Linked DNA regions of Homo sapiens. The protein of the gene in region 2 interacts with the protein of the main gene of each other region in a pairwise test. Each region holds a gene or a part of one and is shown on either strand. Other genes may lie near its edges. The genes, in order: RASA4, APMAP and LOXL3.

What was found.
Region 1: the proteins of APMAP (region 2) and RASA4 interact in a two-hybrid assay, tested with the Homo sapiens proteins (one large-scale study listed by IntAct).
Region 3: the proteins of APMAP (region 2) and LOXL3 interact in a two-hybrid assay, tested with the Homo sapiens proteins (one large-scale study listed by IntAct).

What each region holds. Positions count from the first base shown.
Region 1 is NC_000007.14:102,613,916-102,618,334, forward strand, and holds the start of RASA4 (ras GTPase-activating protein 4), read right to left. Parts: upstream 2,842-4,419; 5' UTR 2,775-2,841; coding exon 2,710-2,774; intron 2,631-2,709; exon of another isoform or gene 2,608-2,630; intron 1-2,607. UniProt on the Homo sapiens protein: Ca(2+)-dependent Ras GTPase-activating protein, that switches off the Ras-MAPK pathway following a stimulus that elevates intracellular calcium. Functions as an adaptor for Cdc42 and Rac1 during FcR-mediated phagocytosis.
Region 2 is NC_000020.11:24,986,128-24,989,775, forward strand, and holds part of APMAP (adipocyte plasma membrane-associated protein), read right to left. Parts: intron 1-3,648. UniProt on the Homo sapiens protein: Exhibits strong arylesterase activity with beta-naphthyl acetate and phenyl acetate. May play a role in adipocyte differentiation.
Region 3 is NC_000002.12:74,534,255-74,536,994, reverse strand, and holds part of LOXL3 (lysyl oxidase homolog 3 isoform 1 precursor), read left to right. Parts: intron 1-66; coding exon 67-286; intron 287-523; coding exon 524-704; intron 705-844; coding exon 845-999; intron 1,000-1,239; coding exon 1,240-1,407; intron 1,408-1,540; coding exon 1,541-1,703; intron 1,704-2,220; coding exon 2,221-2,464; intron 2,465-2,563; coding exon 2,564-2,679; intron 2,680-2,740. UniProt on the Homo sapiens protein: Protein-lysine 6-oxidase that mediates the oxidation of peptidyl lysine residues to allysine in target proteins.

The DNA.
Region 1 (4,419 bases), on a different chromosome or scaffold from region 2:
AGTGATGGGGAATGCAGCTGCGCTCTGTGCCCTTTAGAGGAATAAAAACCCATGAGTAGAAGTGGCAGGAAGGCAGCTGGCAGCTGTGTGAGGACAGCTTCCTCCTTGGAACTGTCTCAGTCAAGATGAGCCACTATGAGAGGTGGTAAGCTCCCCGTCCTCAGAAGTATGCAAGCCCTGGCTGGAGGAGATGCTACTCAGAAGATAGGCGGGGTGCTGGTGAGGCACAGTGAAACTCCAGTACTCAGTGAGGGCCTCCCATGATCTCCAAACCCCTGCCCGACTCTGCAGCCAAATGCTTTGCATAGGATTTCCGAGGCTCAGTCTCACTGAGCCCAGCCGCAAGCTTACAGCCGCGGGCAGGCTAGAATTCTCAGCCTGTCGGCAGCAAAGGCAATCTGAATCCTGACTTCTCTACCTACCCTCTTGGCAAATGGCTTTCACTTCCTGAGCCTCAGTTTCCCAATGTGCAAACCGAGGATGTCTATCTTATAAAGCTAAGAAGAGGATTAAGTGGGGGAAGTCCTCAACACCTCTTATTCTCCCTACTATGGACCCGGTGCCAGGATGAATGAGTCACAGTCCCTGCCCTCACAGTCAGCTGGGACAGGCACCACTTGACGGAGGAACTGCCACACCAGGGGCTTCCTCCTGCCACCCAGAGTGCTGGGGGGCGAGCCCAGGAGCCAGGAACTCTGCCCAAGTGCACCAGGGAATGCCCTGGAGAGGAGAAGTTTGAGAGGAGTCCTGAACATTGAATAGGAGTTTTCTGGAGGACTGAAGTGGAGTGCTTGAAGGCAGAAGTCCCCACACATGGGCGAAAGCAGAGATGTGAAGGGTAGTAGCCCAAATGTGAGGGACTGTTTATGGGATGGTTTAAGAGGCGGCTGACAGGTCAGAGCTGTGTATGCAAGCCACAGGGGAAGATGGGGGGTTGCAAAGGAGACGTGAGTAGGGCAGGCAGGGGGGCAGGGTGAGGATCGAGATCCCAAGGCACCCCTCCACTGTAGATGGAACCCCTTTGCCCAGAGGCAAAGCACTGAGCAGGGAACCAGGCACTGGGCTCCCAGGTGGGCATACTCCAAGAGCTTGGCTGCCCTGGGCTGGAGAGAGCCTGGAGCCAGGCACTAGGGCCAGCTGCTGTGGGGATGAGGAGGGAGGCGACAGACGGAGGGGCTGCTCCTCCCAGCTGCCACCAGCCAGAAGAGGCCAAGATGACCTAGTTCCTAGTGCCAGTGGTGGCAGGGGGTGGGGGATGCTTAAAGGCTGGGCCTGGAGGCTGAGACCCTTCTCAGAGCTCCTCTGCCTTCCCAGCCCACAGACCTCACTGCCAGCTCCCACTCCACCTCCCTCCAAGCCTCCAAGCACAGAAACCCACCTAGGGATGCCCACCGCCCTCCCTTCCCCATTGTCATGGTAACTGCTGAGCTGGGCCTCATCAGACCCAGGGGGCCTGGAACTGGCACTGCTCTCGGTGGTGGCGCGCTGAGCTTGCTGGGAAGCTCACAGGGGCCACCACACATATGTGTGAGCAGAGTGCCTGCCCCCCACCCTGCTCCACCCCCTCGCCCATGCTAGCCACTTCTCTGCATCCAGGAGCCCGGGGCGCCCAAGGGGTGGGGAACTGCAGCTCCGCAGACTTTGGACTCTGTTTCCTCCAGGCTCCACTTTTCCCCCTCCCACCCTCCTCCTCCAGGCAGCCAGTGCCCCTTGACCTTTGAGCTTTCCCCCTCTTCCTCTAGAGGGATTTCAACCCCTAGTTTAAAGAGGGGAAACTGAGGCTCTAGGAGCAGGGAGCTGCCTAAACCCTGTACATGAGGAAGGTGGTGGCAAGACCAAGATGGTGGGCCAGGGGTCAGGCAGCTCAGCCCTGGGACCTACTGAGAAGAGTGGAACAAGGGGCCCCTGAAACCTCCCCAAATCGAGCCAGGGACCAGGGGAATCCCCAGATGTCAGTGCCTGTGAGAAGCCCTAGACTCAAGACCCTGCTCTGCCTGCCACTTGGAGCCAGCATTTCACTTCTCTGAACCTCAGTTTTCTCATCTGTAAAATGGAACGGTGAGAACTGCCTTTCGGGGTGGTTGAGAGGATTAACGGGATGGCTCAGGTGTAAAGCCCAAGGCACAAGCGACAGTTACTACCCTCCTTCCCTCCCCCACAGTCCTGCACCTGTCCTGGCCTCCTGACCTGTTCTCACTTTTCATGCCAGTCCCTCCTACCCGAGTGCACAGCAGGAAGCCCGGGGACAGCCCCTGGGCCCCAGCATGTGCTTCAGGTGCACACTCCGGGGCATTAAGGGCTCTGGAACTACTGAGGAAGACCCTTCCTTTGCGGGGGACACCCCACCCCCTCCAACCCCACCCCGGGGGCAGATCACCAAGACGTCTCCCCTGGCATGTCACCAGGCTCCAGCTCCTGTCGTATCAAAGCCCCTTCCCCTCGTGAGCCGCGGATCGCTGACAAATTCTCGCCCCCTCCCTAGTTCCCAGCCCCCAGCCCTCGGTGACACTTCCCCGCCCCCCGGTTGTCACCCCGTCTGGTGCTCGCAGAAAATGTCACTGTCCCCATTTTCCCCGCCGATCCCCCACCACGGCCGCACTCCCGCACCCTCTCCGCTGCTCTTGTGGGTGGACCCCGGAAAGGTCAGGCGTCCTGGGGGGCAGTGCCCCTCCCCGGAAAGTTGGGGCTCCCACCCCCGGCCGCGCTCACATGTCCTTGGCGGGAAGGTTCTTCCCCTCCACGATGCGGATGTACAGCGAGCTGCGCTTGGCCATCGCGGGGTCCCGGCTCGGGGGAAGCCAGACACCGGGGTCCGGGGTGGCGGGCGGCGGGCGCTGGACTGGGCGCCGCAGGTGGGGCGGGCCGGGGAGGAGGCGGGGGCGGGGGCGGGGCGGCGGGGGCGGGGCTTCGCTGCCACTCCACTCACCCCGCCCCCGCCCCACGTGCGGGGGACACTGCGCCCGGGCCGGCCAATCCGCGACCGGGGTTCCCCAGGGCGGGGAGGGGCCGGCCGGGGCCGCAGCTCTCATTGGCCGTCTGGGGCGTGAGGGGCGGGGCCTGTGAGGAGGCGCTGACACTCGCCGGGCAGCCGGCGCGGTGGCTCGAGGGGGGCGCCCCTGGAGGAGCGGGTGGGGGACACTGCAACCTCCACCTCCCGGTTTCAAGCAATTCTTCTGTCTCAGCCTCCCAAGTAGCTGGGATTGCAGACACGCGCCACCACGCCCAGCTAATTTTTGTATTTTCGGTAGATACGGGGTTTCACCATGTTGGCCAGGCTGGTCTTGAACTCCTGACCTCAGGTAATCTGCCCACCTCGGCCTCCCAAAGTGCTGGGAATACAGGCATGAGCCATCGTGCCTGGCTGTTTTTATGTTTTTTAGAATCAGAAGAAAAAAAATATGTATTTTTTGTATTGGTTGGTTTGTGTGTGTATGTATGTATGTATGTATGTATGTATGTATGTATGTATGCATGCATTTGAAACAGGGGCTTGCTCTGTTGGCTGAAGTGCAGTGGTGCAATCATAGCTCACTGCAGCCTCAATCTCCTGGGTTCAAGCAATCCTACCACCTCAGCCTCCCATGTAGCTGGGACTACAGATGCATACCACCACGACTGGCTAATTTTTTTTATTTTTAGTAGAAATGGGGGGGTCTCATTATGTTGCCCAGGCTGGTCTAGAACTCCTGGCCTCAAGTTATCCTCCTGCCTTGGCCTCCCAAAGGGCTGGGACCACAGATGTGAGCCCACCATGCCTAGTCAAACAGGAGTATAATAGTAATGAATATGTAATAATGAATCTGACCTGACTGGTATCAGTCAGTCTTTATGCCAAAGCAGTTGTAAAATACACATTTGAATATCTTTTTTTTTTTCTTTTTTTTGGGGTGGAGTCTCGCTCTATCACCCAGGCTGGAGTGCAGTAGCGCAATCTCAGCTCACTGCAACCTCTGCCTCCCTGACTCAAGGCATTCTCCTGCCTCAGCCTCCCGAGTAGCCAGAGCTTCAGGGACCTGCCACCACGCCTGGGTAATTTCTATATTTTTAGTAGAGATGGAGTTTCACCAGGTTGGCCAGGCTGGCCTCAAACACCTGACCTCAGGTGAGCTGCCCACTTCGGTCTCCCAGAGTGTTAGGATTACAGGCGTGAGCCACCGTGCCTAGCCGTATTTGAATATCTTAACCCATATAAGTCAAACATGCCTAGGGCTCACAAAAGTTACAGTGCATCCTGGCACAGGAGAGGAGGCAGCTCTTGAGTTTCAGTGCATGCTTTTGATATTCACTATAGGTCAATGTCGTTGAAAGAAAAAGTGTTTGAGGCTGGGCACAGCGGCTCACGCCTATAATCCCAGCACTTTGGGAGGCTTGAGATGGGAGGATCACTTGAGGCCAGGAGTTCAAGCCCAGCCAGGGCAA
Region 2 (3,648 bases):
AACCACTGCCTTCTTCCTTTGCCATTTCCCTTTGCTGATGAGAATTCTGTGTCTATTTTTCTTCTAATAATCTTCCAAAAATGAATTTTGTCCCTAACTTCCTCCCCTTCACTCATAAGGGGTTCAGAGCTCACCCCGTACACCTGAGGCCAGGTAAAATGCCACATTGCCAGTCCTTACCCCTTTTATTAGGTGGGAAAGGAGGTGGTCCAGACCCTACAAACACAAACAAAATGCCACAGACACACCAGGGAGAGGCCAAGGGAGCCCAGCTCCTGGAAGAGGGCAGGTGAGAATGAAGGGGAAAGTCAGGTCAACCTCTCCCTCCCAGTCCTGTCTCCAAACCCCAGGACCAAATAATCTTCTTCTAATGTGACTGACTTATACCAGTCATGGGTATAAGCACCACAGGCATAAAAATGTCTACAAAGCACAGAACTACGACCTGACATGACGGCAGGCTCATGCAACCTGAGAGGTCTGCAGCAGGGAAAGGAGTAAGGGCCAGGAAAAGAGGAATGGCAAACAGTCCAAATGAGAGTATGCCAAGAAATGTGCTTTACGTGGGCAACCAGATGGAACCAGGTATCTCTCTCCTTCACAAATGAGGGAAGTGGGCAGGGAAAGGCTCAAGTGGCTTTCCCACAGCCAATGCAAGAGCTGGAAAAGCGCAACTGAGAGCCAGATGTGACTCTATGGCTGCGGTCACCATTAGAAGCGCTGCCTGCCAAGAGCAAGAGGAGGGAGTGGAGGATGCCCAGACCTAGAGCCCTCAGAGCGGGAGTTTGAAAGCTCTGTGAAAATTCATGGTGATCTGCCTATTCTAGGCATTTCATATAAGTGGAATCATACAACAAGTGACCTTTCATGACTAGCTTCTTTCATTCAGTGTGTTTTCTAGGCCCATCTAAGTTGCAGTATGTATCTGTACATGGTTCCTTTTACCAGTTGATTATGTATGTATCTACCACAACTTGCTGCCCACTCATCTGGTTTTTTGTTTTTTAAATATAAAGACACGGTCTCAGTATGTCAACCAGGCTGGAGTACAGTGGCATGATCATATCTCACTGTTATCTCAAATTCCTGGGCTCAAGTGATCCTCCTGTCTCAGCCTCCCAAAGTAGCTAGGACTACAGGTGTGCACCACCACACGTGGCTAATTGTTTTACTTTCTGTAGAGAAAACATCTTGCTACATTGTCCAGGCTGGTCTTGAACTTCTGGCCTCAAGCAGTCTTCCCACCTTAGCCTTCCAAAGTGCACCCTGAGATGAGCAGGCATGAGCAACCATGTCTAGCCCCACTCATCTGCTGAACATTTGTGTGGGAGGGGGAAATGGGAGTGATTACTTAATCAGTACAAGGTAAACACCTTGCTTTTATGGGGTGATGAAACAGTTTTGAAAGCAGAGAGAGTTGGTGGTTGCCCAACATTGTGAATACACTAAATATCACTGAACTGTGCACTTTAAAGTGGTTAATTGTATGTTATGCGAATTTCACCTCAACTAAAAAAAAAAGTTGACAGTGACAAGAATGTTCTAAACTTGGATTGCGGTAATTACTGCAAAACTGGCCATTATACTAAAAATCACTGATTTGAACATTTTAAGTAGGTTAATTTTATGGTATGTGAATTACATCTCAATAAAGATGTTAAAAAAAAACAAAAACAAAACAAAGTCAGTGACTCCACCATGCAAACTGCCACTCCAATGGCTAGGACACCCTTCAACCCAAGTGATTTTCTTTAAGTGACCTAAAGTCTTCCAACACAATAGAAATGAAGTACTTGTACAATAAAGCAGGGCTGGTTACAAGTAAATGACAGAAACGCTTCTGACAGTGTGAACCCCAAAGAGAGACAAAGCATATGGAAAGGTGGATGGTGAAGATGTGTGGCTGCCAGCCCTGAGAGCTGCCCTCACTGCACTCTGGTACTGAGTCCAACAGGGACTGCCTGCCTTAAAGGAAGCTGATGCCATCACCCACCCCACTCCCAGGAGAGAAGAGTCCCTCTAGGGAAGGTACATTGTGTTTTCACCTCATGACCTTCATTATAAACAGTAACAATCTTGCCAAAACGCTACTTTTTCCTTGCCTAACATCATTCTACCTAAGGCAGATTTTCCTCATCTGTCTTGACTCCAACATTGTGACCTCTACTTTACCACACTGCAGCTTATATTTTTAAAATCTTGATGTGGTAATCTGATTCAGAGCTGGTGGCACCCCATTTAAATACCTGGTTGCCCCTTCACACAATAGTTAGAGGCTCAATTATGTCCCAAACAAAAAGTCCAGCCAGGACTGAAAGCCACGGGGCTTACAGCCAGAAAGGAGGCCAAAAGTCCATTGACAAAGATTTGTGTCCCAATGCTGCGGGATCTACCATACCAGTAACACTCTCCTAAAGCTGGAGAAGAATTTAGAGGCCACTCAGTCTACTGTTCCCAAAGGCAGCCAACTCCTGGATGGGCTACATCAAGATGACCTGGGCCAGAGATTCTGCTTTGGTAGGTACAGGGTGGGCCTGCGAACTCTTTCATCGGTTGTTCCTCATGTGCAGCTGGACACCACTAACTCTATGCAGCTCCCTTCCCAGTCAGACTTCACCAACACCTCCTCAACCTCACCTGATCAGCATCCAGCCTCCACTGGAAAGTTCTGTGGTCACGTATTAGAAATACTAGCTTAAATTTAAACAAAACTCCTTGAGCTGCACTGTCCAATAGAACTTTCTGCAACGATGGAAATACAATAGCTACTAGCCATGTGTGGTTCCTGAGCACTTGAAATGGAGTTAGCTTGTTATATAAATGAGGTAAGCACAGCTCCTGGACCCCTGCTCTGGGTGCCACACTTATTTTAGCCCAAGGTCCATTAACTTTTCGGCAGGCCCTCATCAGTGTTGCTTCCTGTAAACTCACAGTTAACCACAATTCTTCTGTCTTTTCTCGGTGTCTGCCTCCCTCTTACTCTTTTTTTAACTTAAATAAAGAACACTGTATCGATCCCTATCCATTTTCACTGACAAAGCATTGCAGGTTCCCAACCTGTGCTGACACATCCAGGAACGCTGGCAACTTAGTTCCCAGGCGCAGTTTGAGAAATCAGTTTGTTTGCCCCAATCTCTCGGAAGAGCCTGGAGGGATGCCCATCTCCATGAGGACATCTGCACCCTGAAATTGCCTACACTCTCTGAAGGCAAGAGCACAACCACAGTGATGCAACAGGATTTGACAACTGCTGTTGGCTGGGCCATGATTTACACAATCTTCTGTAGATTCACCAGCCAATTTGGCAGATTTTGAAGGGTATCCTCTAACTCTGCACACAGGACATTAGGGCCTTGGGTCCTGAACTGAAGTCCCAACAAGCAGACTCCAAGAGATCAAAATTCACCTGTGATTGTTGTGGAAAACCTGATAGCCCCAAATCCATGGGGTACCAGCAACCTCATGTGTCAAGGTGATCCCTGGAACCTGAGAAAATCAGATAGCATCAACCCATCTTTTTTAGTGACAGCATCTTGAATTTGTTCATTTTTCACAATCCTTTAAACTGGGGCTCCTAGATTCATCAATTTATCCTTGAAAAAAATTAAGAAATCAAGAAACAAGTTTAAAAAGCCATCTGAAAATACA
Region 3 (2,740 bases), on a different chromosome or scaffold from region 2:
ATGTTTGTGGGGCCAAGAGGCAGGAGCATTGTTTTACCCTACTGCACCTCACTCCTGTCCCCCTAGGCTGCTAGCCCAACGGCAGCAACACTCCTTTGGTCTGCATGGGGTGGCGTGCGTGGGCACGGAGGCCCACCTCTCCCTCTGTTCCCTGGAGTTCTATCGTGCCAATGACACCGCCAGGTGCCCTGGGGGGGGCCCTGCAGTGGTGAGCTGTGTGCCAGGCCCTGTCTACGCGGCATCCAGTGGCCAGAAGAAGCAACAACAGTCGAAGCCTCAGGGGGAGGTGTGTGAGACAGTGATTATGACCTTTCCCACCCCAGGTGGAGAACCCCTAGCCTGGCAACCCCAGACTAAGCACAGCCCTGACCTTTGAGGACAGAGAGGAGCCTTCCAGGGGGTGGGCCACAGACCTGATACCACCCACTCCCTTCCACCAAAGTCTCACTCATCTCCCAGGTCTGCTTAGCCCTCCGTGCAGATGTTGCCATTTGCCTCTGTTGGGCACTTCTCTCTTCTATAGGCCCGTGTCCGTCTAAAGGGCGGCGCCCACCCTGGAGAGGGCCGGGTAGAAGTCCTGAAGGCCAGCACATGGGGCACAGTCTGTGACCGCAAGTGGGACCTGCATGCAGCCAGCGTGGTGTGTCGGGAGCTGGGCTTCGGGAGTGCTCGAGAAGCTCTGAGTGGCGCTCGCATGGGGCAGGGTGAGGTGGCATGGAGGTGGGAGGGAGAGGGAAGGAGGTACATGCTCCTGGGGGGCATATTCCTTCGGAAGGTTAGGTGTCCCCTGGGCAGACAATATATGCTTAATTACAACTTCCTGATCTTTGCCATCTGGCCCTAGGCATGGGTGCTATCCACCTGAGTGAAGTTCGCTGCTCTGGACAGGAGCTCTCCCTCTGGAAGTGCCCCCACAAGAACATCACAGCTGAGGATTGTTCACATAGCCAGGATGCCGGGGTCCGGTGCAACCTACCTTACACTGGGGCAGAGACCAGGGTCAGTCATCCTCTCTACCTTGGTTGAGGTCTCTTTCATCCTATCCAGGTCTGGTCTCCAATCTACAGTCCAATGGCCCCCAGCCCATTGCCCCAGGCCCCTGCCCTCCTGCAGCTCCCACCTGACCCATCACTTGCTAGCCCATTATGTGCCTGAGTCACGCTTCAGCCACATCTGTTAGAGACTCCCACTACCTCACCCCAAAGCTTTCTCCAGCGCTTCCATTCTGTGTCACTACAGATCCGACTCAGTGGGGGCCGCAGCCAACATGAGGGGCGAGTCGAGGTGCAAATAGGGGGACCTGGGCCCCTTCGCTGGGGCCTCATCTGTGGGGATGACTGGGGGACCCTGGAGGCCATGGTGGCCTGTAGGCAACTGGGTCTGGGCTACGCCAACCACGGCCTGCAGGTGAGTGGGAAGGAAAGGGGAGCCGAGGCTGTTGTCTCAAAGCCTGTGTTTTGGGCAGAGGGCTGAGGAATGAGTCCCTTGGCCCAAGATGCTGGATCCTGGGCCTTACAGAAACATCTGCATATGTCCCCAGGAGACCTGGTACTGGGACTCTGGGAATATAACAGAGGTGGTGATGAGTGGAGTGCGCTGCACAGGGACTGAGCTGTCCCTGGATCAGTGTGCCCATCATGGCACCCACATCACCTGCAAGAGGACAGGGACCCGCTTCACTGCTGGAGTCATCTGTTCTGAGAGTGAGTGAAGGAGGGGGTGATGCATGCCAGGGAAGGGAGTGTCTGGGCCACCCGTTTGCAGGGAAAGGGGGCTGTAATCTGGAGGGGCACTTCTTCCCCATAAAAGAGCCAGTTTCGCCGGGTGCAGTGGCTCACGCCTGTAATCCCAGCACTTTAGGAGGCCAAGGCGGATGGATCACGAGGTCAGGAATTCAAGACCAGCCTGACCAAGATGGTGAAACCCTGTCTCTACTAAAACTACAAAAATTAGCCAGGCGCAGTGGCAGGCGCCTATAATCCCAGCTACTCGGGAGGCTGAGGCAGGAGAATCACTTGAACCCAGGTGGCAGAGGTTGCAGTGAGCCAAGATCACGCCGCTGCATTCCAGCCTCGGCAACAGAGTGAGACTCCATCTCAAACAAACAAACAAACAAAAACAAAAACAAAAAACTAGTCTTACACACTAGGGAGGGATGGAAGCACCCCTCTCTGTGAAGTCAGCAGTGACTTCTAACACCCCCTTCCTTTCTTGGTGCAGCTGCATCAGATCTGTTGCTGCACTCAGCACTGGTGCAGGAGACCGCCTACATCGAAGACCGGCCCCTGCATATGTTGTACTGTGCTGCGGAAGAGAACTGCCTGGCCAGCTCAGCCCGCTCAGCCAACTGGCCCTATGGTCACCGGCGTCTGCTCCGATTCTCCTCCCAGATCCACAACCTGGGACGAGCTGACTTCAGGCCCAAGGCTGGGCGCCACTCCTGGGTGTGGCACGAGTGCCATGGGTGAGAGGGTAGGGAGTCAAGTAGAAGGGCAAGACCACGGGGGATGGGGCAAACCTTCTGGGGGCAGAGAAGGAAACAGAAGTTCCCTTCTCCCCACAGGCATTACCACAGCATGGACATCTTCACTCACTATGATATCCTCACCCCAAATGGCACCAAGGTGGCTGAGGGCCACAAAGCTAGTTTCTGTCTCGAAGACACTGAGTGTCAGGAGGGTGAGTTGGGGACTGAAGTGAACCACATGGTATCCATTGCACAGCCTTTCCTTACACTGAC